Linked DNA regions of Homo sapiens. The protein of the gene in region 4 purifies or fractionates together with the protein of the main gene of each other region. This does not show direct contact. Each region holds a gene or a part of one and is shown on either strand. Other genes may lie near its edges.

Region 1 (7,026 bases), on a different chromosome or scaffold from region 4:
ACCCCCATGCCCGGCTAATTTTGTGTTTTCAGTAGAGATGGGGTTTCTCCGTGTTGGTCAGGCTAGTCTTGAACTCCCGACCTCAGGTGATCCGCCTGCCTCGGCCTCCCAGAGTGCTGGGATTACAGGCGTGAGACACCACATCCGGCCAAGAATACTATTTTTAAACATTGCTTTACTGTGTTTCACATATTGGAGGATCACCTTGTGTTTTTCCCCATAGGTTGATTTGTTTCTAAGAGAGAAATTCTCTGTTCCATGGCCTAGATCTTACCCAGTACCCACTTTTGATTTCAGAGACTTGTTATGATTGTAAGGGGACTAGAAAAAAGGGTGGATGGCTGAATACAAGCTAGTCTCACTTCACTAGAAATGTCCACATCCTAATAGTGAACCTGATTTTTATAAGCATTTAAGTGCTCTTTCATGTTCCCTTTCTACCACATTCAGAAATTGCTACTTTTCCTTTAAAAACATTTAATTTTTGTTATATAGATTTTCAAGATGTGGAATAAAGAACTTTATGTGAGAGAACAGCAGGATGCATATGAATTCTTTACTAGTCTCATTGATCAGATGGATGAATACCTCAAGGTAGTAAAAGTTGTACTTTCCCTCTAACTCCCTCAAACTCTAATTATAGTATGAGAATAGTGTCTTAGCATTTGGGGTTACTATGAAACTGACGAATCAGAAATTGATTATCTTTAACATAAGAACTATAATGTATTCTGTGTTTAAACATCAAAACATAACACAGATCAATAGAATTGTATATTTTCTCTTTTTTTTCTTTTCTTTTTTTTTGAGACAGAGTCTCGCTCTGTCACCCAGAGTGGAGTGCAGTGGCACAATCTCAGCTCACTGCAACCTCTACCTTCCAGGTACAAGAGATTCTTGCACCTCAGCCTCCCGAGTAGCTGGGATCACAGGTGTGCACCACCACGCCCGGCTAATTTTTGTACTTTTTGGCAGAGATTGGGTTTCGCCATGTTGGCCAGGCTGGTCTCAAACTCCTGGCCTCCAGAGATTCACCCACCTCAGCCTCCCAAAGTGCTGGGATTACAGGCTTGAGGTACCATGCCTGGCCTAGAATTGCATATTTTCTTAATTCATCTAACGCTCAGTAAAGTATGTAACTCTTAATCTCTACTACATAGTAATAACCATTCCTACCTACATATTCTTTCTGTGTGTCTACTGAAATAATCTGGCCTCAGAAGAGTGCTGCAGTCACTGGTGAGCTGATGGCCCTGTGCAGAGCAGAGAGTGCTCTGGCACAGGGGAGAAAGGAGCCAGATTAAAAAGTTATTCGTGGTGCTGTTGAAACCCAAAGCTCTCTACCTCTACCCTGTAAGCCATGTGGCAGACTTCCTAAACGGTATTGCCTTCTCAGATCCCGCTGTCACTGCCAGCATTGGCCTCTCATCAGTAGGCACAATTCTTCCATTTTTTAAAGTAACTTGCAAATTGATGGCATTCTATCCACAAGAAAAAAGAAAAGATTGCTGAGAGTTGCCCCTAACTTGGTCCTTGTAGCACAGGGAGAAGGATTCAGAATCACCCTGGAGAACACTCTCTTGTCATTAGCTCTACCTGACCCATCCCTCCTCCTCTTCCTCTTCTGATCGTCTGCATCACTCTGACAGTGGGGCCAATAATGGGTTTAGCCTCCATTCACCACAGCTGATACTACCAGAATGACGCGTTTTGTTTTGGTCCTTAAATTGCAATGTGTTAATAAAATTCTGTATACTCATAAGTTCAGGAGGCATCACTTAAAACTGTAACTTTTCATTCCAACAGAAAATGGGGAGAGACCAAATTTTTAAGAATACATTTCAGGGCATCTACTCTGATCAGAAGATCTGTAAAGACTGTCCTCACAGGTGAGTGAAGATATCACCGACACAGGAAAAATGATCATCCTTTTGAAGTGATTTGTTTAGTATGTTGTAAATTTTGCATTTGTTAAGAGACTTAGAACTCTCTCCCTGTCAACAGATCTATAAGTATTTAGTGACTTAAATTTCTTTGCTTTCTACTTCCAGAAGGAGAAAAAATTTCTTTGTGGGCTTAAGAAAATATTCATTGAAATTCATAATTTTAGGCAATTCTTAATTGTCACAAAGTGGCATTTTAACTTAGTAATGGACTTTTAAAATATTGAGGGACTCCCAGATTAAAAATGTAGTTCTGTGTTCAAGCTTAGGTATTATGATAATTGAAGAGTTTTAAATTCCATTGTTGATTGTGGGTTTTCTGTTATTTCCTAATCAGATATGAGCGTGAAGAAGCTTTCATGGCTCTCAATCTAGGAGTGACTTCTTGTCAGAGTTTGGAAATTTCTTTGGACCAATTTGTTAGAGGAGAAGTTCTAGAAGGAAGTAATGCGTACTACTGTGAAAAGTGTAAAGAAAAGGTATTATGTTTGCCCTTTTTAAAAAACAAGATTAATTTGTTATTCGCATAGTGCGTCTTTGTTTTATGTAAAATCAGTATTAAGCTCCTACTGTTATTTCCATTAGATTGTGTCATTACTTGTTTTCACATGGATCAGAAAGGCCTTTGCATTAATTACTGTGCTGTTTTATTTTCTCCATGGAGATCATTCAGATTTGCTCTTTTTCCTTTTTTTTTTCTTTAGAGAATAACAGTGAAAAGGACCTGTATTAAATCTTTACCTAGCGTCTTGGTAATTCACCTAATGAGATTTGGGTTTGACTGGGAAAGCGGACGCTCCATTAAATATGATGAACAAATAAGGGTAACTTTTTTTCTTCCTGAAATTTTTCACAACCATTCATTTCCTCACTCACTTCTTTTTTTTTCCTTTTTCAATTTTCATATTCTGTCTACCATGTTAAGGCTGTTGTCTCAGCATTATGAAGAGCCCCTTATCTTAGGCAGCTGCTGTTACCGGAATAGGCAGATCTGGAAACAGTGGCCCTCATTTCTAGAAGGCATCCTAGTGATTACTATGAAGGAAAATGCCTTCCTTAGGGCTCAAACCAGAGGCTACTTTAGACGTTCCCAGACTTAACATTTCTGAGATTTTATACTTGAACTGGTGAGGTAGTTGTTCCTAGCTTAAACTAGGAAAACACTTCCTCTTATTTGGATCTCACTTAACTGGGTACTGCTGTATATGTTAGTAATCAACGTTAATATGGTCTTTTTGCTTCTACATAGTTTCCCTGGATGCTAAACATGGAGCCTTACACAGTTTCAGGAATGGCTCGCCAAGATTCTTCTTCTGAAGTTGGGGAAAATGGGCGAAGTGTGGATCAGGGCGGTGGAGGATCCCCACGAAAAAAGGTTGCCCTCACAGAAAACTATGAACTTGTCGGTGTCATCGTACACAGTGGGCAGGCACACGCAGGCCACTACTATTCCTTCATTAAGGACAGGCGGTAAGAGTTTCCTGAGGCAGCACTTACTCACTTTCTGCCCTCCCCTGCTCTCCGTTATCATCCATACTCACCGCTGTGGTGCAGGGACACTTTGGCATTGTTCTTGACTGTGTTTCATTTTGAAGTTTTAAAGCTTCGTGCAACTGGTTTTACCCCTTCAATTTGAAAAGTTGTTTTAGAAATTGAAATAATTGTTGCTACATATTTCTTAGATATTTTCAAATGGTAAACACCTGCTTTATTTGTAGACAATACATTGAGATCAATGCTAAGGATGAGGAGGTTGATTTTTTTAACCTTATAATGTTTGTCTGATCTCTGGGTTCTAGAGGGTGTGGAAAAGGAAAGTGGTATAAATTTAATGACACAGTTATAGAAGAATTTGACCTAAATGACGAGACCCTGGAGTATGAATGCTTTGGAGGAGAATATAGACCAAAAGTTTATGATCAAAGTAAGTATTTACAAATGGATATTTTCCATTAGTTTTTTTATTTATCGTTTTCTATAAAAATTAATAGTATTCTTTATATAAAAACACAACAGATTTTGTTATTTTTATTGTACTACTGTTCTAGCAATAGAACCATGAGCAAGCTCTTTAATAACCAAAGTGAAAATGTTCAAGCTGTTTATAAAAATTTTTTTAAATAATTTCTTACAACAACCTTGAGGGATAGGTAGGGGAGCTGGGAGTAAGTTAAAAGGATGAAATGAGCATCAGAGAGAAAGTAATGAATACTGAAATTGAACCTTAAAAATAGTTTTGGAAGTAGTTATCCATTAAAATTTTCAGATTTCCTTTTCACTTATGTAGAGGTGTGACTAATTAGAGAAGACATTTCTAGCACCTGTGTTTTTAAAACCATATTTATTATGCAGTGTGGCAAAGCAGTCTTTCCCTCTACAATCCCCACTCCCAGGAAAAAAGAGTATGAGGAGAAGTACAGCCCAATCAGAACTTGCTATTTGATAAAAAGCTATTTGGTGGAGACCTTAGCATTTCAGAAACCTGATTTTGAAATCTTCTAGTGGTATTTCTAAATTTTTAGCTGTATTGGATTCACTGTATTAGATTTTGATACCATGCCATTATAGTTAAGCATCTTATGGTGGTAACCTTTAAGAGTTGGATATAGTATTGTCAGAATTTGCCTGGATTTGGCCGATCTTGGCAGAAATGGTTAAGTGAGGCCAGTTATCCCATCTTGTGCCACAGAACATATTTTTAAATGTCACTTGCTATTTGCTTACATTTAGACCTCCCTAGGATACTTACCTTCTTTCTCTTACTCCATTACCATACTGCTCCCTTATTCCTTGTCCCCACCTATATCACTTCCAAGTGAGAGATCCAGCTAGGCCCACAACTGAAGTATCCTGACTTCCATGCTAAGCAGTACTCTAAAGACACTCACATTTTACTTATACTTTGCATTTTACAAACTTAGGGAGTAGTTAACTACTTGCTGGAATAATGGGCCCTTTGTTTTAGATTGTCAAGACAAGAAAAACTTTTATTTACAGATGTGTTTCTTAATGTCTTGTTATAAAGCAAACCCATACACTGATGTGCGCCGAAGATACTGGAATGCCTATATGCTTTTCTACCAAAGGGTGTCTGATCAGAACTCCCCAGTATTACCAAAGAAAAGTCGAGTCAGCGTTGTACGGCAGGAAGCTGAGGATCTCTCTCTGTAAGTGTCTCTTCCATGTAATTTGCTGTGTGATTTCTATGGTGATGATGTGGTCTGTGACAATATACTATTTGAGATTTTAAAGATAATTAGCTAAGCTGGAGAGAAATTCTAAAAAGAATTCCAAAAAGAAAATAAATCCCTTATTGCTTCATGGTTATTTTCTTGGCAAGAAGTTGTTACATATTTAGAAACATGCACGTAAGTTATTTCATTCTAGAATTGAAGTGTTTTGTTTTTTGTTTTTTTGAGACAGTGTGGTCTCACTCTGTCACCCAGGCTGGAGTGCAGTGGCATGATCATAGCTCACTGCAGCCTCGACCTCCCAGGCTGAAGCGATCCTTCCACCTCAGCCTCTTGAATAGCTGGGACCACAGGCGAGGGGCACCAGGCCCAGATATTTGGTTTGTCTGTTTTTTGTAAAGATAAGGTCTCCCAATGTTGCCCAGGCTGGTCTGGAACTCCTGGGCTCAAGCAATACTCCCATCTAGGCCTCCCAAAGTGCTGGGATTATAGGCATAAGTCACCATACCTGGACTTTTTTTTTTTTTTTTTTTTAATGTTAGCAGCATTTGTTGAATACACTTTTTGTCCAAAGCATAATGCTATGCCAACACTGTCAGAATGTTGTTGTTTTTTAAAGGTCCTATTGTCAGTGAATTTGCCTTTTAATATATTGGGTCAGGAAAGTGTTTACTTTTTCATGTGAGAAATATGACTATATGTGTTTTATTAAATTTGAAAACTTGGTTCAATACTTTGTTCTTACACGACTTTGAGTGTGTGGCTCTAAGATAAGTTTATTTCACTGCTTTTTTAATGGCTGGGAAAGATATCTCACAATAATATGAAGGAAGAATTCATTTTGTGCTTAAATGTTAAATCTCATATGCCACTTAAGTAAAAATTTGTGTTAAATTTGCCCTGCACTATTTTATCTTCTATAATGTCAATCAGTTCTCCCAACTAATTAGAAAGTATTGCATTTTTAATTTCTTAATTGTTACATTATGATTGTATATATTTATGTGGTACAGTTTTATGTTTCGATACATGTATAATAATCAAATAGTCTAATACCCGTTTATGTGAATTTGGCAAGTCTTAGTAACTACTGAAAAAATAGCCACTTTATACTAGACAGAGTTTTCTGATTCTATCTCTTAGGTCAGCTCCATCTTCACCAGAAATTTCACCTCAGTCATCCCCTCGGCCCCATAGGCCGAACAATGACCGGCTGTCTATTCTTACCAAGCTGGTTAAAAAAGGCGAGAAGAAAGGACTGTTTGTGGAGAAAATGCCTGCTCGAATATACCAGGTAAGAACCATATAAAAAATTCTAAGGGGGAATATCCACGTGGACATCAAAATGTATCTAGTAGGTCCAGAAGTACTTCTGCTGGATTAGTTGTACCACTGGGGCTACATCGTCTTACACACTTGTCTCATGAACCTTTTATGCCACGACACAGAGGGGGCCATAGAGCTAGAGCCATGGAGTGCTAAGAACACAAGTATGAATACACACTCATGATTGGCAGGCACAATCACTGACCTGCTCTGTGAGTGTGAAATGTCACAAATAAACAGAGTTGTGGGGAGTGGGCAGTAAAGAAATCGTGTTGCTGAAATAAACTTATTTTGTCTGGAGAGAAAAACAAGTTAAGGTTCATAACCTTTGAGTGGGACTAATAAAACAATCATTGGCCATTATTTATTGAACACCTACTGTGTGCTACGTGCTTTAAGCACATCTTTAATTTGTAAAAGATTATTATGCAGTATCAGGTTTTATTCTCATTTTTTGGATGGAAAAACAGGTTCAGAAAAGAAGAAGTATGTGCCAGTGTCACAGGACAAGGATCTAAATTCAGAACTGTCTACTCAGTCCAGACTTTATACACTAATTAATCAAA
Region 2 (7,026 bases), on a different chromosome or scaffold from region 4:
CACTTCTAGAAATTAGTCACACAAAAAAAAAAACAACTTAGCTTTCAGCTTCCAGCCAGTTGCTAATAAAGACCTGAGTATCTAAATTCAAGGTATTAGCCTTTGCCAACCATCTGGGGAAAAAAAAAAAAATCCCTAAACTAGTAGATAAAGCAAATTTTATAGAAATCATACAAGGCACACCTTAGTTATTTCTGTTTAAGTTCCAATAAAATTTATTTGGTTGACATCATGCCAAGGTGCCCTTTTGACCTCCAATTTAATCAGAAACAAAATCCAAGTAACAATTCATGAAAAAAGATTAGTGAAAACACTAAAGAGAAATATTTCCAATTTCCCATAATGGCCAGTGTTAGAGAAGGAAACATGCTTGTTGGGAAACTGTCAAAATGATCATAAAAAATGTAAATAGGATAATAACTGGCCTAAGGTACAAGACATCCAAAGGTATGTTTTAGCTTATGTGTTAAATAAAATGCTTGCTGATGGGGTAATCAACTTTGTTCATTCTTTACAATTTCCATACTAACACCCCCTAAATCAATGAAATACAAGCATAAGAAAGAATTATTATTAAAATCAGTACATGAAACAAATGAGCTCATTAGCCCAAAGGCAATGACTATTCAGGGCAAACCAGAGGGATCTGTATACTCTCAAGACATTTATCAGTCACTCACAGTCGTACAGAAGATGGTGATTCTGATGCTTATTGTATCAACCTCATAAAATTCTGAAAACTCACTTCCTGAAACGTGCAAAGTTGTGCAATTCTGCTACTACACATTTCTGGTATGGTACATCTTTCTTGAATCTGTCCCACCCCTACTTTCTAATTCTTACTAATTTGGGAATCTGAGGACCTTAGACATGCATATATTAGAAAACAAAGTAAATGTAACAAAATGTCCAAATGATGTTGACATACACTTAAATTTGGTTTCAAGCTACAAGGCCATTCAATTAGTCTGGAGGAGACATTAATTAACAACAGCTCATCCTTAGATTTAACTGGGGGGGATTACACTGGAGTTTACAACACTGCTCACCTTTAGGACAGAAGCTAAGCTGGTCATGTGCTCATTGAGGGCACCCTCAGATTCCTTGTAGGTCAAGCAAGTGAACTGGTACTCCTCGGGATCAAAGGCATCAGCCCCCTGCTGCTCCACATCGCTGGCTACTCCCACGTAATAGTCCTCTATGTCCCCAGGGTCGTCTTCTTCTTCTTCTTCCTCTTCCTCACAATTTGGGTCATAGTCCTCTTCATTGCTGTCAGACCCCTGGCTATTCATGTCCACTGACATCTTAGCATCCAGCCAAGTTGCAGATCAGGAAAGCAGTTGCTTTTTCCCCCTCCCCCCAAAACTACCGCTTTCTCAAATGCATTAGTATTTTTGTCTTCTAAGGGAGGAAAAAAAAAATAAGTGTTACTTTTTCCCCATGACAAGTTGTAACAGAAACCATTCAAGAATCAAAATGGGACAGTCCTGGCCCTAATCTCACTACAGCCTATTCCAACTCTGGTATCACATGGGGAATCTTACTATCATCCCCCTGGCCCAGGCTTATAAAAGGGAAATCCTTCCCTGGAGAGACAGAAGCAGCTAATAAATGGTAACTTCACATGAAAGGCCTGGCATGACAGGGCAAGGCTGTCTGCTCTATGTCAGAAAGTCAAATTCCAATGAACTTGTTATTCTTGCCAAAGTCCTTAAGGGAGAAGCACATCCCCACAGCTGGCAGCCCAGAGGGGAGGCAACATAAAGGTTTAACTACCAAAGTTTAAAATTTTGCTTATCATGCCCCGTTAGTATTGATACAGACAGTACATAAATAGGAACACTTCCTGCTGTAATATGTAGAAAAAGAAAACCACTGTTTCACAGACATTACTTTTAGGTGTCTGAAAAATAGGTGCATAGTTGGTAAAGAAAAAAAAAACACACATAGGTGTTCAACATCCTCCTCTAGTCTGCAAAGTTGACTGATTTTTCAGGTTTAAAGAGTTCTACTGGCCGGGTGTGGTGACTCATGCCTGTAATCCCAGCACTGTGGGAGGCTAAGGTGGGTGGATCACTTGAGGTCAGGAGTTCAAGACCAGACTGGCCAACATGGCGAAACCCCATCTCTACTAAAAATACAAAATTAGCCAGGTGTGGTGATATGCACCTGTAATCCCAGCTACTCGGGACGCTGAGGCAGGAGAATCACTTTAACCCGGGAGGCAGAGTTTACAGTGAGCCAAGATTGCGCCACTGCACTCTAGCCTGGATGACAAGAGTGAAACTCCATTGGCCGGGTGCGGTGGCTCACGCCTGTAATCCCAGAATTTTGAGAGGCTGAGATGGGTGGGTCACCTGAGGTCAGGAGTTCGAGACCAGCCTGGCTAATATGGTGAAACCCTGTCTCTACTAAAAATACAAAAAAATTAAGCAGGCGTGGTGACAGGCACCTGTAATCCCAGCTACTTGGGAGGCTAAGACAGGAGAAACGCTTGAACCCAGGAGGCGGAGGTTATAGTGAGCTGAGATTGCGCCACTGCACTCCAGCCTGGGCAATAAAAGCGAAACTCCGTCACACACACACGTACACACATACACACACACACACACACACACACGAGGGAAACTCCATCTCAAAAAAGAAAAGCCCGCAAACAGCGAAATGTTACTTAATTACATATAAACGAAAAGAGAATACTAGTTGAGAAAGTGAAACAGTCACAAACCCTAACTTCAACTCACAGAAGATTGTGGCAAACACCCATTAACTTTTCTACACAACTACCATTTCAACTGATGAGCTGAAAGGAACAATATCAACTAGCGATTTAAATCTAAAACTAGGCCAGGTGCGGTGGCTCACGCCTGTAATCCCAGCACTTTGGGAAGCCAAGGCGGGTGGATCACGAGGTCAGGAGATCAAGAGCATCCTGGCCAACGTGGTGAAACCCCATCTCTACTAAAAATACAAAAATTAGCTATACGTGGTGGTGCGTGCGTGTAATCCCCAGCTACTCAGGTGGCTGAGGCAGGAGAATCACTTGAACGAGGGAGTCGGAGGTTGCAGTGAGCCGAGATCCCGCCACTGTACTGCAGCCTGGCAACAGAGTGAGACTCCATCTCAAAAAAAAAAAAAAAATCTAAAACTAATAGAACCTTAAAGTGTAAGAGCATTTGGATTTAACAGTACATAAACAATTTATATAAACAAATCTTGATTAAATACAAAAGCAAATATAAAGTCTACTTGAAGTAGGTAATCTGTCTGAAAAAAAACAACCAACCATAATCTAAAACAAAGACTGAGGGTGTGGCTCACAACTATAATCCCAGAACTTTGGAAGGCTGAGATGAGAGGATCCCTTGAGGCCAGGAGGTCAAGATCCACCTGAACAACCTAGTGAGACCATGTCTCTACAACACATTTAAAAAAAAAAAAAAAGAAATCAGCTGGGCGCGGTGGCTCATGCCTGTAATCCCAGCACTTTGGGAGGCCGAGGCAGGTGGATCACGAGGTCGGGAGATCGAGACCATCCTGGCTAACATGGTGAAACCCCGTCTCTACTAAAAATACAAAAAATTAGCCGGGCATAGTGGCAGGCGCCTGCAGTCCCAACTACTGGGGAGGCTGAGGCAGGAGAATGGTGTGAACCCGGGAGGCGGAGCTTGCAGTGAGCCGAGATCGCGCCACTGCACTCCAGGCTGGGCGACAGAGCGAGACTCCGTCTCAAAAAAAAAAAAAGAAAAAAAGAAAAAAAATCCCGGCACTTTGGGAGACCAAGGTGGCCAGATCACCTGAGGCCAGGAGATTGAGGCCAGCCTAGCCAACATGGCAAAATCCCATCTCTACTAAAAATACAAAAATTAGGCTGGGCGCAGTGGCTCACACCTGTAATCCCAGCACTTTGGGAGGCCGAGGCAGGCAGATCACGAGGTCAGGAGATCCAGACCATCCTGGCTAACACGTGAAACCCCATCTCTACTAACAATACAAAAATTAGCTAGGCATGATGGCATGCACCTGTAATCCCAGCTACTCAGGAGGCTGAGGCAGGAGAACTGCTTGAACTCGGGAGACGGAGGTTGCAGTGAGCAGAGATTGCACCACTGCACTCCAGCCTGGGCAACAGAGCGAGACTCAATCTGAAAAAATAAAAAAATAAAAAATAAAAAATAAATTAGCTTGGCAGGGTGGTGCACACTTGCAATCCCAGCTACTTGGGAGGCTGAGGCAGGAGAATCACTTGAACCAGGGAGGAGGTTGCAGTGAGCCAAGATCATGCCACTGCACTCCAACCTGGGCAAGAGTGAGACACTGTCACACACACAAAAAATAAACAAATAAATAAAATAAGACAGGCATAGCGGTCATGCGTCTGTAGTCCTGGCTACATCGAAGAACTGCTTGGGCCTGGAAGGTCAAGGCTGCAGTGAGATCGTGCCACTGCACTCCAGCCTAGGCAACAGAGAGATTCTGTCTCCAAAAATAATAATAATAATAATAATAATTCAGGTAAATAATCTTCTACTTAAAAAAAAAAGGCCCACGTACAGTGGCTCACATCTGTATCAGTGGCTCACGCCTGTATCATAATCCCCACACTTTGGGAGGCTGAGGCTGGAGGATCATTCAAAACCAGGAGTTCCAAACCAGCCTGGGTAACATAGTGACACTCACGTCTACCAAAAGGAAAAAGAATTTGTAACCAGTCTAAAAGACTATGGAGTACTGAGACATAGTATCACTCTGTCACCCAGTCTGAGATATAAAAACATGATCATGGCCCACTGCAGCTTCCAACTCCTGAGCTCAACAGATCCTCCTGCCTCAGCCTCCTGAGTAACTGGGACTACAGGCATATGCCACCCCCATACCTAATTTTATTTTTTGTATAAACAGGGTTTTACTATGTTGCTCAGGCTGGTTTCAAACTCCTGGCCTCAAGCGATCCTCCTGCGTTGGCCTTACAAAACGCTGGGATTATAGGCAAGAGCCACTGTGCCCAGCCTACAGTCACATTTTTATATAATAAAAATATTGGCGAGGCGCGGTGGCTCACACCTGTAATCCCAGCACTTTGGGAGGCCGAGGCGGGTGGATCACCTAAGGTCGGGGGTTCAAGGCCAGCCTGACCAACATGGAGAAACCCCGTCTCTACTAAAAACACAAAATTAGCTGGGCGTGGTGGCACATGCCTGTAATCCCAGCTACTCAGGAGGTTGAAGCAGGAGAATGGATTGAACCCCGGAGGCAAAGACTGCAGTGAGACAAGATTGCATCATTACACTCCAACCTGGGCAACAAGAGGGAAACTCTATCTTAAAAAAAAAAAAAAACACTCACTATATCTAAGTTGATATGTTAACTATAAATGCTCCCATTTCTAAAAATTAAAAAAAAAACCCTATTAATTGTGGGGCAATAAAAATAATGTTTGCAGTCTGACCTTTTTTTTTTTTTGAGACAGAGTCTCACTCTGTCACCCTGGCTGGAATGCAGTGGCACGATCTCAGCTCACTGCAACCTCTGCCTTCCGGGTTCAAGCAATTCTCCTGCCTCAGTCTCTCAGTAGCTGGGATTACAAGCACATGCCACAATGCCCAGCTAATTTTTTTTGTATTTTTAATAGAGATAAGGTTTCTTTTTTTTTTTTGAGACGGAGTCTCGCTCTGTCGCCCAGGCTGGAGTGCAGTGGCGGGATCTCGGCTCACTGCAAGCTCTGCCTCCCGGGTTCACGCCATTCTCCTGCCTCAGCCTCCCAAGTAGCTGGGACTACAGGCGCCCGCCACTACGCCCGGCTAATTTTTTGTATTTTCAGTAGAGACGGGGTTTCACCGTTTTAGCCGGGATGGTCTCGATCTCCTGACCTCGTGATCCGCCCACCTCAGCCTCCCAAAGTGCTGGGATTACAGATGCAAGCCACTGTGCCTGGCCAGCAGTTTGACTTTTAACAAACTCTTCTGTATGGTAGAGCCACATAATCACAACTAAACTTAACGATGGTGTTTTTTCTTTAGGAGAAAAAGTTAATCTTTAAATTAAAGATACCTGTAATTCTTGGAGATCTCTCAGGCAGATGTCACCCAAGTATTCTACATAATATGATTTCCATCTAAAATGAAAAGAATTATATTTATATTTTTAAAGCTGGTATACTGCTTTTGCAAGTTTATTTTTTTTTTAAAGCAAAGGTATTTTAAAGGACAAGTAACAAGGGACAGAGTAACTATTAAATTAATTATCTTCTTTTAAAGTGCCAACAAAAAAAATCCATGACATAATTATATTGACAAGAGTTACATGACCTTCTAAAAAAAGAAAGTATTCAGCTGGGTGTTGTGGCTCACGCCTGTAATCCCAGCACTTTGGGAGGCCAAGGCAGGTGGATCACCTGAGGTCAGGAGTTCGAGCACCTGTAATCCCAGCTACTCGGAAGGCTGAGGCAGGAGAATCACTCCAACCAGGGAGGCAGAGGTTGCAGTGAGGTGAGATCGCGCCACTGCACTTGAGCCTGGGTGACAAGAAAATTCGTCTCAAAAAAAAAAAAAAGAAAGTAATCTAAGTAAACAGGTAGCAATAATTTAATCTCAATTCTCTCTCTCAGTTTGAAAGACCACTTCTTTTTTTTGTTTGTTTGAGACAGGGCCTCCCTCTGTCACCCAGGTTGGAGTGCAGTGTTGCCATCTCAGCTCACTGTAACCTCCACCTCACCCAGCTGAAAGCCTGCTTCTTTACTCCAGTATTTCTGTCCTTCAGATTCTCAACTACCACAATTTCAATCCTAAATGTTATGTAGATGTTGACCAAGCAAATTGTAACTGACTTAAAATTTAACTTTTACTACAAAATCACCTCCACTGTGGTAATCTAACACAGAATAATGCTAATATTTCAGATCTCACTTTACTCATGCTGTCGTGGCTCATTTATGTCACATTACTCATAAATGTCGTGGTGGTGCATGCCTGTAGTCCCAGCTACTTGGGAGGCTGAGGTGGGAGGATTTCTTGAGCACAGGAGGTT
Region 3 (7,026 bases), on a different chromosome or scaffold from region 4:
ATCCACCCGCCTTGGCTTCCTGAGGTGCTGGGATTACAGGCGTGAGCCACCACACCTGGCCACTCCAGATTTCTTTAACCACCACTCTACTCTCTACTTCTTTGAGGTTGTTTTAGATTCCACATATAAGTGAATACATGCAGCATTTGTCTTTGTGTCTGGCTTATTTCCCTTAGCAAAATGTTCTCCAGTTCCATCCATGTTGTCACAAATGACAGAATTTCCTTTTTTTTTTTAAGGGTGAAAAATATTCCATTGTATATATAGTAGTTTTTTTAAACTTACACTGAAGGTCTTGAGACACACAGTTTACTGATTTTCCTGTTTGGGAATATATATGGGTGTGTACATATATGTGGTTGTATGTGATAATGTATACGTGTCTTTATAGTAAATATACTTTATGAGAGCTATATATGTATTAACACATTTCATAAGATGAAATCTGAATTTATTGAAAAGGCAGGCAAGTTGGTAGCTGCAGAACACAATTTAGCCTCCCTTTGACTGTAAATGTGTCTTTATATATACACTGAGTTTGTTTGTTTGTTTGTTTGTTTTTTGAGATGGGGTTGCATTCTGGTCACCCAGGCTGGAGTGCAGTGGCATGATCTCTGCCTCTTGGGCCCAAGCCATTCTCCCACGTCAGCCTCCTGAGTAGATGGGATTACAGGCACGTGCCACCATGCCCAGCTGATTTTCATATTTTTTGTATAGATGGGATTTTGTCATGTTGCCCAGGCTGTTCTTGAACTCCTGGACTCAAACAGTCCGCCCACCTCAACCTCCCAAAATGCTGGGATTACAGGCGTGAGACACTGGGCCCGGCCTGCACCCAGTTCTTGATGTTTGCTAGGCATAGTATTAGCAGTACTTAAATAAAAAGTTGAAGACAGTGGTGTTTGCCTATATTTGTCAGGGTTCAGGTGCAGATAATTAGAAAAGTGCTGTTGCTTTTTCTTTTTTTTTTTGAGACCGAGTGTCGCTCTGTCACCCAGGCTGGAGTGCAGTGGTGTGATCTTGGCTCACTGCAACCTCCGCCTCCCGGGTTCAAGCGATTCTCCTGCCTCAGCCTCCTGAGTAGCTGGATTACGGGCACGTGCCACCATGCCTGGCTTTTAAGCTGAGACAGACTTAACACAGGAGTGAGGTTTTTAGTAAGTGGATAGGCTGAAGGAGGAGGCTCCAGGAATGCCCTCCAGAATCACACCTCAGAACTGGCCGTGAAGGAGCTGCTATGCCACCTCTCCTGCTGTCAGGAAGCTTAGGTGTGATCTGGTGAACTAGAGGCTGTCTTTGCCACCGAACCGTTGGCTCCAAAGCCTTGTTCTGTCTGTGTCTACACAATGGCTACCTTTTGCTATGTGGTCTTTCTTTCTACTTCACTCTGTCTCAAGTTCATGTTTCTCTCTAGTAGACCTGATTAGCAGACCCCTAATCATATCTGAAACCCTAGCTGCTAAGGGGTCTGGGAAAGGTAGTTCTTTCTTTTCAGTTCCTGCAATACATGAAGCACAACAGAAAGATATTGGAACGGATGGTTGAATAACCCCTGTACTATATCTGTCACACTCACCCCAAAAAGGAAAGACAAGTATTTTAAGTCACCTCCAACGTGCTTTTGAGTACATAGGGTCTAGAAAGTTTGATTGGAGTGTACCAGAGGGGAAGGGGATGGTGTGAAGGCTCCCTCTGGAAGGCGCGGCGGTGGGTGGCTGGAGCCGAAGGATTAGAATAAACCTCCCAAATGTGCTCGGACCTCATTCACTGAGTATTTTTCCAGAAACAGGGAAACAGCCTTGCAGCTGAGGACTGGTGTGAAGGTGCTGATGACTGGGGAAGTGATACTGAGGAGGGGCCTTCACCACAGTTTACCTTGGATTTTGGGAATGATGCCAGCAGTGCCAAAGACGTAGACTGGACTGCTCGGCTCCAAGACCTCCGCCTGCAGGATGCTGTCCTGGGTGCTGCCCATCCTGTGCCTCCTGGGCTGCCGCTCTTCCTGCCCTACTACATCTGTGTTGCAGATGAGGATGATTACAGGGACTTTGTCAACCTGGATCATGCCCACAGCCTTCTGAGGGACTATCAGCAGAGAGAAGGCATTGCCATGGATCAGTTGCTTTCCCAAAGGTGAGGATGTGTGCTGCTGAGGTTGAGAGGTGACTGGATTGGGAAGCAGCCACAAGAGTTACCCTTCAGTTTCACCACAGGACCTGGGGAAACTTTCAGGCAGAACTTGTATGTAGGACCTTTTTGCTTCACTTCCTTATCAGCCAACTTGAGTTAGCTTGAAAACCCTGCTCTATTTATAATTGCCGTTAAGAAAGTGAAGATGAACAAACAGAAGTTAGAGATGGCAAGTATTTATAGAAGACGCGTTCACTGACTCTTAAATTTTCTTTTATATTTCTAATATGTCTTTATAGCAGAGACAGGCAAGTTAGAAAACTACCATTTGATCTGGGATAATAAGATTGGGGTGAAAAAATGGAAAAAGGAAAAGAAAAACGCCATTTGTTTATTGACTCTTGGCTGTGGCTCCAGAACTGGCCCAGGACCTCAGAGATGCTTTCAGATCCTCAATTCTGTAAAATGAGAGTGATGGTGATATCTCTGTTCTCTGTTTCATCCCATGATTTTTTGAGAGTTAAGCGAGAGGGTAGATCTTGAAAGGCTTTATAAACCAAAGCTCTCTAAAGAGGTAAGAATGATCATTTTTGCTTATTGATTGACTGAGAGAGACAGGGTCTCACTCTGTCACCCACGCTGGAGTGAATTGGTGTGATCAAAGCTCATGCAGCCTTGAACTCCTGGGCTCAGGCAATCTATCTTAGTTTCCCAAGTAGCTGGGAGTACAGGTGCACACCACCATGTCTGACCAATTAAAATTTTTTGAGTTTCGCTGTTGTTACCCAGGCTGGAGTGCAATGGCACGATCTCGGCTCACTGCAACCTCCACCTCTCAGGTTTAAGCAGTTCTCCTACCTCAGCCTCCCAAGTAGCTGGGATTATAGCCATGTGCCACCATGCCCAGCTAATTTTTGTATTTTTAGTAGAGATGGGGTTTCACTATGTTGGTCAGGCTGGTCTCGAACTCCTGACCTCAGGTGATCCACCCACCTCAGCCTCCCAAAGTGCTGGGATTACAGGCGTGAGCCATTGTGCCTGGCCTAAAAATTTGTTTTAGCCACTGCACCCAGCATTTTTTACTATTAGAATAAAAAAATTACAATAGAATATTTGGAGAAATGGCCTGGTTCTTTACCAGAACTGTTTCATTTGTAGGCTTTTTCAGAATAATGATGAAGGGGAATGCATGAAGACATGTTGGTGTTTGAAAATAATCCTTAATAGAATTGATGGTTATAAGGACTTTTTATTTTTTATTTATTTATTTATTTATTTATTTATTTATTTTTGTGTGTGTGTGATATGGGCTCTCTTGCCAGGCTGGAGTGCAGTGGTGCGATCTCGGCTCACTGCAACCTCCCCTTCCTGGGTTCAAGCAATTTTCTTGCCTCAGCCTCCCAAGTAGCTGGGACTACAGGTGCGCGCCACCACACCCAGCTAATTTTTGTATTATTAGTAGAGACGGGGTTTCACCATGTTGACCAGGATAGTCTCAATCTCTTGACCTCGTGATCCACCTGCCTTGGCCTCCCAAAGTGCCGGGATTACAGGTGTGAGCCACCGCGCCCGGCAGGATTTTTTATTTTTTAATTTCTTAAGTTTTTATGTATTTGCTTATTTTTGGTGGGTTTCTTCAGACTAGAGTATTCTTCTTTTTTTTTTTTTTTTTTTTAGAGATGGGATCTTGCTTTGTTTCCCAGGCTGAACTGCAGTGGTGTGGTGTGGTTATGGCCTTTTTTTTTTTTTTTTGAGACAGTCTTGCTCTGTTGCCCAGGTTGGAGTGCAGTGGCACGTTCTCGGCTCACTGCAACCTCTCCCTCGCCGGCTTAAGCAGCTCTCATGTCTCAGCCTCCCGAGTAGCTGGGACCATAGGCGTGCGCCACTTCACCCAGCTAATTTTTGTATTTTCTTTTTAGTAGAGATGGGCTTTTGCCATACTGGCCGGGCTCTTCTTGGAGTTCTGGCCCCACGTGATCCGCCCACCTCGACCTCCCAAAGTGCCGGGATTACAGGTATTAGCCACCACGCCCAGCCTGCTCATGGTTTACTGCAGCCTCAAACTCCTGGCCTCAGGGGATCCTCTGGCCTCAGCTTTCCCCATAGCTGGGACTACAGGTGTGTGCCACCAAACTCAGCTAATTAAAAAAATTTTTGGTTTTTTTGAGACAGAGTCTCACTTTGTCACCCAGGCTGGAGTACAGCGGTGTGATAATGGCTCACTGCAACCTCCAGCTCCCAGTTTCAAATGATCCTCCTGCCTCAGCCTCCCAAGTAGCTGGGATTACAGGTACCCGCCACCACACCCGGTTAATTTTTGTATTTTTAGTAGAGATGGGGCTTCACCATGTTGGCCAGGCTGGTCTCAAACTCCTAACCTCAAGTGACCCACTCTCCTTGGCCTCCCAAAGTGCTGGGATTGCAGGCGTGAGCCACCGCACCCAGATGAAAAATACATATATATATATATATATATAAAATAAATAATAAAATATATATATTAAAAAATATATATGAAAATATATATATTTGAGACAGAATCTCGCTCTGTTGCCAGGCTGGAGTACAGTGGCTCAATCTCAGCTCATTGCAACCTCCACCTCCCAGGTTTAAGCAATTCTCCTCCCTTAGCCTCCTGAATAGCTAGGATTACAAGTGCATACCACCATGCCCAGCTAATTTTTGTATTTTTAGTAGAGACAGGGTTTCACCATGTTGGCCAGGATGGTCTCGATCTTTTGACCTCGTGATCCACCTGCCTCGGCCTTCCAAAGTGTTGAGATTACAGGTGTGAGCCACTGTGCCCTGCGACTTTTTAAATTGTAAATAATTACTCAAGAGTTGAAAATGGCTTGGGAGAAGGGTTGGGCAGGGAACTGCAGAGCTACATGTACACAATTTAAATATCAAAAATATTTACTTGACAGTTTTTGGCTGAGTGCGGTGGCTCACTCCTATAATTCCAGCACTTTGGGAGGCCGAGATGGATCACTTGAGGTCAGGAGTTGGAGACCAGCCTGGCCGACGTGGTGAAACCTTGTCTTTACTAAAAATACAAAAATTAGCTGGACGTGTTGGCGCACACTTGCAATCCCAGCTACTCAGGAGGCTGAGGCAGGAGAATTGCTTGAACCCAGGAGGTGGAGGTTGCAGTGAGCCAAGATTGCACCATTGCACTCCAGCCTGGGTGACAGAGGGAGACTCCCTCTCAAAAAAAAAAAAAAATTACTTGACAGTTTTACAGTTTTTTAACTTTGACAGTTTTTTTTTTTTTTTCTTTTTGAGACAGGGTCTCACACTGTTATCCAGGCTGTAGTGCAATGGTGTGCTCACGGCTCACCACAGCCTTGCCTCTGGAATAGCCGGGACCACAGGTGCATGCCACCATGCCCAGCTAATTTTTGTATTTTTTTGTAGAGACAAGGTTCTGCCAGATTGCCCAGGATGGTTTTGAACTCCTGAGCTCAAGTGATCCGCCTGCCTCGGCCTCCCAAAGTGCTGGGATTACAGGCGTGAGCCCACTGCACTGGCCTGAGAAATTTTTTTTTGAGACGGAGTTTCACTCTTCTTGCCCAGGCTGGAGTGCAATAGCGCAATCTTGGCTCACTGCAACCTCCATCTCCTGGGTTCAAGTGATTCTCCTGCCTCAGCCTCCCAAGGAGCTGGGATTACAGGCGCCCGCCACCACGCCTGGCTAATTTTTTGTACTTTTATTAGAGATGGGGTTTCAAGATGTTGGCCAGGCTGGTTTCAAGCTCCTGACCTCAGGTGATCTGCTCACCTCGGCCTCCCAAAGTGCTGGGATTAAAGGCGTGATTGATTTTTTTTTTTTTTTTTTTTTTGAGATGGAGTCTCATTCTGTCACCAGGCTGGAGTGTAGTGGCATGGCACGATCTCGGCTCACTGCAACTTCCGCTTCCCGGGTTCAAGCGATTTCCTCTGCCTCAGCCTGCTGAGTAGCTGGGACTATAGGCGCAAGCCACCATGCCCAGCCAATTTTTTGCATTTTTTAGTAGAGATGGGGTTTCACCATGTTGGCCAGGATGGTCTCGATCTCCTGACCTTGTGATCTGCCTGCCTCGGCCTCCCAAAGTGCTGAGATTACAGGCGTGAGCCACTGCGCCTGCCCTGATAAAATTTTTTAAAAGAAAATTATCTTGTTTTGTCTTGCAAATGCTGTAATTTTCTGGATATAGACATTCAAAAGTGTTTTCTGCTTCTGTTTTTAGCCTTCCTAATGATGGTGATGAAAAATATGAGAAGACCATAATTAAAAGTGGAGATCAGACGTTTTACAAATTCATGAAGCGAATTGCTGCTTGTCAGGAGCAGATTTTGAGGTAAAAAAAGGCACAGTTCCTTTTATTGTTTTCCTTGATTATAAAGGAATACATATTAGTTTGGAAAACACAGGAAAATATGAGAAAAGCAAAACCTACAGTATTCCCCAAACCAAGAGAGAACCTAATACCTGCTTTATAGGACCTAATACCTACTTTATAGGATGTGTAGGAGGATTCAGTAAGGTAAAGTGCACTCACTTGTCTAACAAATACTTACGAAGTCTATTCTGCATGCCAGTTGCTGGTATTTGTAGGTGCTGCAGATATAGCAAGAAACGGCACAGATGAAGTCCATGTTCTCATAGCCTTTATTATTATTATTATTTAATTTTTTTTTTTCTTTGAGAGGGAGTCGCGCTCTGTCGCCCAGGCTGGAGTGTAGTGGCGTGATCTTGGCTCAATGCAACCTCCACCTCTTGGGTTTAAGCCATTCTCCTGCCTCAGCCTCCCAAGTAGCTGGGATTACAGGTGCCCGCCACCCTGCCCAGCTGATTTTTTTGTATTTTAGTAGAGATGGGGTTTCACCATGTTGGCCAGACTGGTCTCGAACTGC
Region 4 (7,210 bases):
TTTTTTTAACTTTTCTATATTTTGAAATGTTTCATGATACAATCTTAGGAAAAAAATAATTTGAGTCACAGTGGGAATCAGAACTAGAAGGATTCCAAAATGTTATACCCCTTTGTCTACTTTCTTTGCTTCCAACTCTAGCACCTTGTACACAGTAAATGAAGTGACTCTCTGTTGAATGGAGCTGTTAAACTAAATTCCAAGCTGCAAGATCACTTCCAAAGCTGGCAGGATGCTTCCAGAGTATGAGTTGGTGATTTATTTCTGTGAAGGCCAGATAGTAAGTATTTGAGACTTTGTGAGCATACAGTCTCTGTCTCAACTATTCAACTCTGCCGTTGTAGACTGAAAGCAGACATAGACAACACTTGACAGTTTGCCAAGTAGAGGATACCATCAATGCAAAGGCCGTGGGGCAGGAATAGTGGCTGTGTTCCAATAAATTTTATTCACAAAAACTCATGGGGCTCATAGTTCGCCAACTCCATGTAGACCACAAATACTTACCTCCGACTAGAAAAACAGGAGTAAGATTGACAAAATGCCAACAGTCTATGTAAAGGTTTCATGGGTGACAGGACAGGACATGGCTGATAACAAAAGGAAACAACAAACATTTTTGTGTCTACCTCCACCTCCTACTCACCCATTTCCTTTCATTAAAAACAGGGCAGTTTGTTCCGGCACTGAACCTGAGGTTTGATATGCAAGCACCCTTAGGAGAGGTGACATGTTAATCTTCAATTCTAGTAAGTGTGAATAATTCACATCTGATCCCAACTTACAAGCAGATTATTTTAGCACCAGAAGGAATACATGCAGGAGGTAATGGAGTGACGTCCCCAAAGAAGAGATACCCATGAACAAAGTTCAAACTGCAGAGATAAGCTGTTGGAGCCCTTGTGGTCTTACTCTTTAGTGAGGAGAGACAAATAATAAAGGTAATAAATAATTAAATTATGTATTATGCTATAAGGTGATGAGTCCTGTAGAAGAAAGAAAACACAGAGCAGAGTAAGGGAGATTGGAGTGCTGGGTGGAGGGTGAGGCTGTGATATTAAACAGGGTGGTCTGCGTAGGGCTATTAGGAAGATGCCATTAGAAGCAGAACCTGGAAATGAGGACACGAGCCAGTCAGATATCTGGGACAGTTTGCCAAGCAGAGGATACTGCCAATGCAATGGCCCTGGAGCAGATGTTGCTCAGAATATTGGAGGAGTAGAAAAGATGCCAGTTTCAGGAGTGGTAAGATGAAGTAGAATAATCATGTGATGATGTTAGAGACAGTCCTAGGGGACCAGAACAGGGGGGACAAGCGAAGAGTTCAGACTGGAGAAGTGCTAAGATGTGACTTACATTTAAAGAATCACTCTGGCCACTCAGTGGAGAATAGACTGCAGGGGCAAGAGTGGAAGAAGGAGAACAGTCAGGAGACTAGTACAATATTCCCCCTGGGGGTGGTGGCAACTCAGACCAGTAGGTGGCAGTAGAGGTATTGAAAAGTGGCCAAACGGGGGTACATTTGCGGCTAGTGCTAACCTTATTTCATGAAGGATTGAACGTTTGGTGCAAGAGAAGGGTAAAAATTAAGGATGACTCCATATTCTTTAGCCAGAGCAACTGGAGGGGGAGAGTTCCTATTAGCTGAGAAGAGGAAGACTGTAGGAAAAACTAGTTTTGGGGGTGGGGGGGTGGGTGTGAATCAGGAGGTCAGCTTTGGACAAGTTTTGACATATATATCAGATATCCCAAGTACAGATGGACAAGTTGACAGTCAAACATAAGTTTGGAATTCAGGGAAGAGGTCCTGGCTGTCATAAGCATATAGATGGTGTTTAAAGCCATGAGTCAAGTGAATTTTCTAAAGTGAGAGAAAAATACAGGTCAGCCACAAGCCAGAAGGACTCTGATTATCTCATTTTCTTTCTTCCTCTCTCTCTCTCTCTCTCTCTCTCTCTCTCTCTCTCTCTCCCTCTCTCTCTCTCTCTCTCCTTCCCCCTTTCTCTCTCTCTCTCTCTGACAATGGATTCTACCAGGTTCTTTTTTATTTTAAAAATGTAAGCACAAGTAAACAGGCTTGTTCACATCATGAAGTCAAATTATCCCATGCCATGTCCCTTTAGCTGTGGCCTGCTAAAGGCTTGCATGAACAAGCTTAGGAGAAAATTCCTAAAATTCTAACTGAGTAAAGATGACAATGCAGAGTATAATTTGAGTAAATGAAGTCATATTATCGTAATAGCAGATTGCCAAAAGTTAGGATGTAACTAAACTCATGGAAAATACAGAGCCAAAGAAACAGGAGAAGTAGCAGAGGAAGTGAATGAATAGAATAAAGTAAATAAATCTGTGACATTTTGCCTTAGAGGAAACCACTCCTCCCAGCTGTCCTTGGGTGTTTTATGCCCCCAAGAAGGGATGGAAATCCCAAGAGATTGTGCCCAGGTGTTTCCACAGTTATACCGACTGTATTAGTCCATTTTCATACTGCTATGAAGAAATACTCAAGACTGGGTAATTTATAAAGGAAAAGAGGTTTAATGGACTCACAGTTCCATATGACTGGGGAGGCCTCACAATCATGGTGGAAGGTGAAAGAGGAACAAAGGCATGTCTTACCTGGTGGCAAGCAAGAGTGCGTGTGCAGGGGAACTGCCCTTTATAAAACCATCAGATCTGGTGAGACTTATTCACTGTCATGAGGACAGCACGGTAAAAACATCCACTCCCGTGATTCAATTACCTCCCACTAGGTCCCTCCCACAACATGTGGGGATTATGGGAACTACAATTCAAGATGAGATTTGGGTGAGGACACAGCCAAACCATATCACCAACTCCTCCTTCCCCTACCCTAAGTTTACTTTTTATTCTAGAATCGAACTTTTGCCATATTACCATATATAAGTTGTGAAGTAAATACAAATCGCCATGTGGAAAAGGAAATTAACTAGCAGAGTGTAGAATTAATTTATTTAGCCAGGTTGTTGTGCCACTCTTGCCCTGCTTCACCCTTAATTTTTTGAATGACTACCTACTATATTCCTAAAGAATGGAGAGCTATTTGGAATCCATCAGTGACTTTAATTTGCTATTAGAATGTAAGTTACACTCTTTTGAATTCTTCTGAAGGACTCCTTTCCCTTCCCAAAATTCTAGTTTCCAAACTGAAATATTAAAAAATATTTCTGCAAGTTATTTTTCCCATACTCTACTGTAATTAAACCACTATTTGTGGTTCCCCCCCCCCCCACACAGACACATAAGCCCCTTGAAGATGTGGGCTGCCTCTCTTCTGTTTGCTCTTGTGTCTCCAACCCCTAACGGAATGCTCAGCACATGGCAGGTTCTCAAATAAGACTTGACTGAACGAATTAATAGAAATGATGCTAATTCCATGTACACTCAAAAGAATACCTCTTTGAAAGCCAGTAGCTTCACTCTCTTCTGCCAACCCAAGACTTCTTCACATCATAGATACTTACAAATAAGTTACAGTAAGCAACAATTTATAAGTAAACACAGTGTGTCAATGCATGCCAAAAGGATGATTACTTTTCTTGGCTATCCATAGCAGGACATAAAATATGTCCTTAGATTTATTACAGATGGCCAGCCGGTATGCACCAGAGAAAATAGTGGAATGGGGGAAGCCAAAAGTTGTGAGTCTGTCATAATGATGTCAAGTGACACACTTTTTCATTGCGATCTAGGTGTACCATACCTTAGCAAAAACAATCTATTTTCCATTTCTGGATTTCTTAATAACTTAAACTATATAAATAAGCTCCTTTTCCATCATATGAACTGTTCTTACATATTCTCTGGCCTTCCTTTGTCCAAATGTTGAGTTGAAGTTTTCATTGCATATTCTCTGTGCACTTTGCATTACCTAATGGTTTCCTGGCTCATGTGAGAGAAGTCAGCGTCAGCAGTCGGGTTTTGCCGAGATATTTTCTTGTCCTTTCCAGCATAGAGCTCTACAAACAAAGGCAGGGTTATCACATGTACCCGAGAGCTGCCTGGGAAAAGTGGGAGCTATAGTTATCAAAATTGGAAACTTTATGAAGTATGCTTTTGTCTCCGTTTTTGTTGCGTTCAATCAGATCAACAAGTGTTGGCTAAGTGTTGAGCGTGGTTTCCTGTGGGATTGTGTAAGGCTCTGTAGGACAATAAACGTGTTGGGGGCACTGAGTAATGTAGCCATTTCTGACCCGGCAGCCAGGAAAATGTGAAACAATTTGCTTCTGGAAACAGGACAGCCGGGGCCGTGTTCCTGCAACAGCAGACCAAGCACCGCGGCGGACCCAGGCAAGCACGGAACAAGCTGAGACGGTGCGTTTAAGCGGCAGGTGGCTACTCAGTGTCGCATACTATGCGGAAAATAGGTTTGGTTCCCGGTGTTGTGGGGCCTGAAGTTACAAACTTTGGGAAGCTCACTTTAAGAAAAATAGTACAACATTTTTAATATGAAATTGCCAGGGCTTTCTCTGGGACTTTAGATGGGACCAGGTAATTTGGAGGCCAACGGCTGAAACTGCTATAATTTCACTGTAAATTCACTCCTTGCTCAAAATCTCAGTTAGGGAAGCTCTCAGGTTGTTTATGTATCACCACCAGTTCTACCTAGCTTTGTGTGTATTCTCTGCTAATTTTCTCCATCCGCTTCTTTAGGTATTGCCTTTCCATAGCCTTTCATATTGGCCTCATAACTGCTTCCAAAGAGACATAGAAATGTTCCTTATACCTTCTTTAACTGTGTTTTTATGATGTTACTTTAGCTACAAATATTTGCTCTTAGGTTCCTGAGGTCTCCCTAAATCAAGTGCTTTGTGTATTTTAGATGGAGATAGACAGGTGGGAGGGAGGTGAACCATGCAGTTGTACTCATATCCATATAATTTTGAAAGATTTTGTGGGCCACAATGATTTCATTGGATTTGAAAAGGAGTGCAACTTTGTGGTCCATGTAAGTGCTTCTCAAGCTTTCCTGTGCACGTGGATCACCTGGGGATCTTGCTAAAATGAAGATTTGGCTGCGCGAGGTCTCGGGTGGGAACTGAGAGTCTGCATGTCTAATGATCGCCCGGATGATGCAAGTGCACGGACCACACTTTGAGTCACATCCAAGTATTTATTTGTAGGAAATATGGTGGCACAAATACACAGTCAATAAGGGTATGGTTCAACCTCATTTTATGGTAACTCGTCTCAGGATGGAAAGTCTGCGACAAACCTACTATGTATGGACTGGTGTTTGTTGACATGGCAATACATGAGGAGGTCTTCCTGCCTCCCATTTTCTCCTATACCCAGGAGCTGGGGACAGAGGGATGAGAAGTAAAATTTTATCATTAAGGATCATTATTATTTCACTGTCTTTAGTTTTTTAACTTTTTATGGTCCTTTTTAAAACTTTGCCTATGGAGTGATCAGAAGGGACATAAGCTTTTAGAATATCTACTAGGGTGTTGGGCATTAGGCTGCCATTTTCTCTTGACTACTTGTAACCCTTCGAAGTGGTTATTGTTTCACTGCCTTTACAGATGGGGAAGCTGAGGTTTAGCTGGGTTAAGTAACATGACAGATTCCATAGAGACAGAGCAGGGATTCGAACCCAGCTCGGTGCTTTCACTTGCACTAACCGGCATCATGAAAGCAGTGTTACATGTTTAATTCAGCATGAGATGCTAGCTCATGGATTTATTACTTTTTGCTTTTCTCCTAAGGAAGTTGCCCAGAGAGAGTGCCCTAAGCAGAGGAGAGGGAGCAGAAAGAAAGAGGTTACTGAAAAGAAGAAAAGACTTAGAAAAGCTCTATGGGGCACTGAAGATTAATCTCACACCTAAAGCAAAACTTAGCTCCAAAAAGACTAGCATTAAGATTCTTGCCTTCTTTGTGAGAAAATGATCTTCCCAAAGTGTCTGGTTTTTATACACTTATTTTGGATCAATTAAGGTATGATGCTCCAAGATGCTGAGAATTTGACTGTCAATGTTAAAAGATTTCTGTCCATATCATGCCAAGATCAACTTTAACTTTCCCTCTCCTGCATAACATCATGTGAAATAAGGATCTGTCAGGTTCTGTGAAGCCAGTATTTGTCTTTGGCCAGCATCCTAAGACTTTTTGAACCACTTTACTTGATCCTCAGTCAAACTTTTTGTTCTTGTTTAAACCTACCATCACATTTTGTTCAGTTATTTAGCACGAAGATAAGCGGGCCTGGCATTTGGACAAATATTTGAAGATCAAGTTTGTCACAGGGCCCTCCAGTTTCCCTTCCAGATCCCACCCCACTTGGAGCGTCTTCCCTTTCTTTCCCACCCTTCCTGCTCTACTGCCCTCCCACCACATGTATTATTTTAACATCTTGACACCTACAAAATCTTTAGCTATATGGCATGTAAAGTAAGAGAGGATAACTAAACCAAGTCAAAGGGTAAGGAATTGCTATCCTTATCTCTGAATTTTAAAAGATAAATCTTTAAAGACACCACCCTGAGCCAGTCAGGGAATACACTTCCTGGTTGAGGGAACTATCCAATGGCCACTTAACTAGATAACCCTGTCTCCCTTGGTATCCTGTTTCCTGCTCCCCTTCTGTACCACTGAGAATTTATTCCAACTTTTGAGGTTGTATGTTCTTACCTATTTTCAGAATGTGGTTTCAAATTTTGCTATTTAACACTGCCTTTCAGCAGGAGATTCCTATCGAAAGATTATAGGTAACATCTTTCTGATATTTCCAATAAAATGTCTCTTGCACTGGTCTGTTAAGACTCAGATTTATGGGTAGTTTCACCAAACTATGTCCCTTAGCAAAGCTGTAGTATGTTTGGCTGAACACACAGATATCTCCTACTCTGTTTACTGCCATCATGGAGTGGATGGTGTACAGGTATGACACCTGAAGCTGGCTCCCAGGGCCATGCCTCTTAGGTCACTGGTTAACAGTACTGGCTAAGTCACTTAGGCTGCTGGGGCTCAGTGTTACATCTGTAAAATGACTTCTAGGTTTCTTATAAGATTTGACATCCTATGACTGCCTTCCTGTATTTAGGTTAGAGCAGTCTCTGGTTTAGGAGGGTCACACAGCAGGCATGTCCTTCTCTAGCATTAGTAGCGTGGTCACGAATATGGGATGTGGAGTTAGACTGCCGGGATTCAAATCTAGCTCCACCCACTAGCAGTGTGACCTGGGCAATTT

The links.
Region 1: the proteins of BMX (region 4) and USP24 purify together in Homo sapiens (affinity purification with mass spectrometry; 3 studies listed by BioGRID and IntAct, with this or other methods). This does not show direct contact.
Region 2: the proteins of BMX (region 4) and ARIH2 purify together in Homo sapiens (affinity purification with mass spectrometry; 2 studies listed by BioGRID and IntAct, with this or other methods). This does not show direct contact.
Region 3: the proteins of BMX (region 4) and PDCD2L purify together in Homo sapiens (affinity purification with mass spectrometry; 3 studies listed by BioGRID and IntAct, with this or other methods). This does not show direct contact.

The regions. Positions count from the first base shown.
Region 1 is NC_000001.11:55,093,339-55,100,364, reverse strand, and holds part of USP24 (ubiquitin carboxyl-terminal hydrolase 24), read left to right. Parts: intron 1-495; coding exon 496-594; intron 595-1,806; coding exon 1,807-1,889; intron 1,890-2,280; coding exon 2,281-2,422; intron 2,423-2,647; coding exon 2,648-2,767; intron 2,768-3,192; coding exon 3,193-3,413; intron 3,414-3,742; coding exon 3,743-3,867; intron 3,868-4,968; coding exon 4,969-5,110; intron 5,111-6,277; coding exon 6,278-6,428; intron 6,429-7,026. UniProt on the Homo sapiens protein: Ubiquitin-specific protease that regulates cell survival in various contexts through modulating the protein stability of some of its substrates including DDB2, MCL1 or TP53.
Region 2 is NC_000003.12:48,921,837-48,928,862, reverse strand, and holds part of ARIH2 (E3 ubiquitin-protein ligase ARIH2), read right to left. Parts: intron 6,515-7,026; exon of another isoform or gene 6,395-6,514; intron 6,116-6,394; 5' UTR 6,052-6,115; intron 4,146-6,051; exon of another isoform or gene 1,402-4,145; 5' UTR 1,305-1,401; coding exon 1,050-1,304; coding exon of another isoform or gene 1,008-1,049; exon of another isoform or gene 192-1,007; intron 1-191.
Region 3 is NC_000019.10:34,407,378-34,414,403, forward strand, and holds part of PDCD2L (programmed cell death protein 2-like), read left to right. Parts: intron 1-1,783; coding exon 1,784-2,133; intron 2,134-6,359; coding exon 6,360-6,470; intron 6,471-7,026. UniProt on the Homo sapiens protein: Over-expression suppresses AP1, CREB, NFAT, and NF-kB transcriptional activation, and delays cell cycle progression at S phase.
Region 4 is NC_000023.11:15,496,606-15,503,815, forward strand, and holds the start of BMX (cytoplasmic tyrosine-protein kinase BMX), read left to right. Parts: upstream 1-4,201; 5' UTR 4,202-4,335; intron 4,336-7,210. UniProt on the Homo sapiens protein: Non-receptor tyrosine kinase that plays central but diverse modulatory roles in various signaling processes involved in the regulation of actin reorganization, cell migration, cell proliferation and survival, cell adhesion, and apoptosis.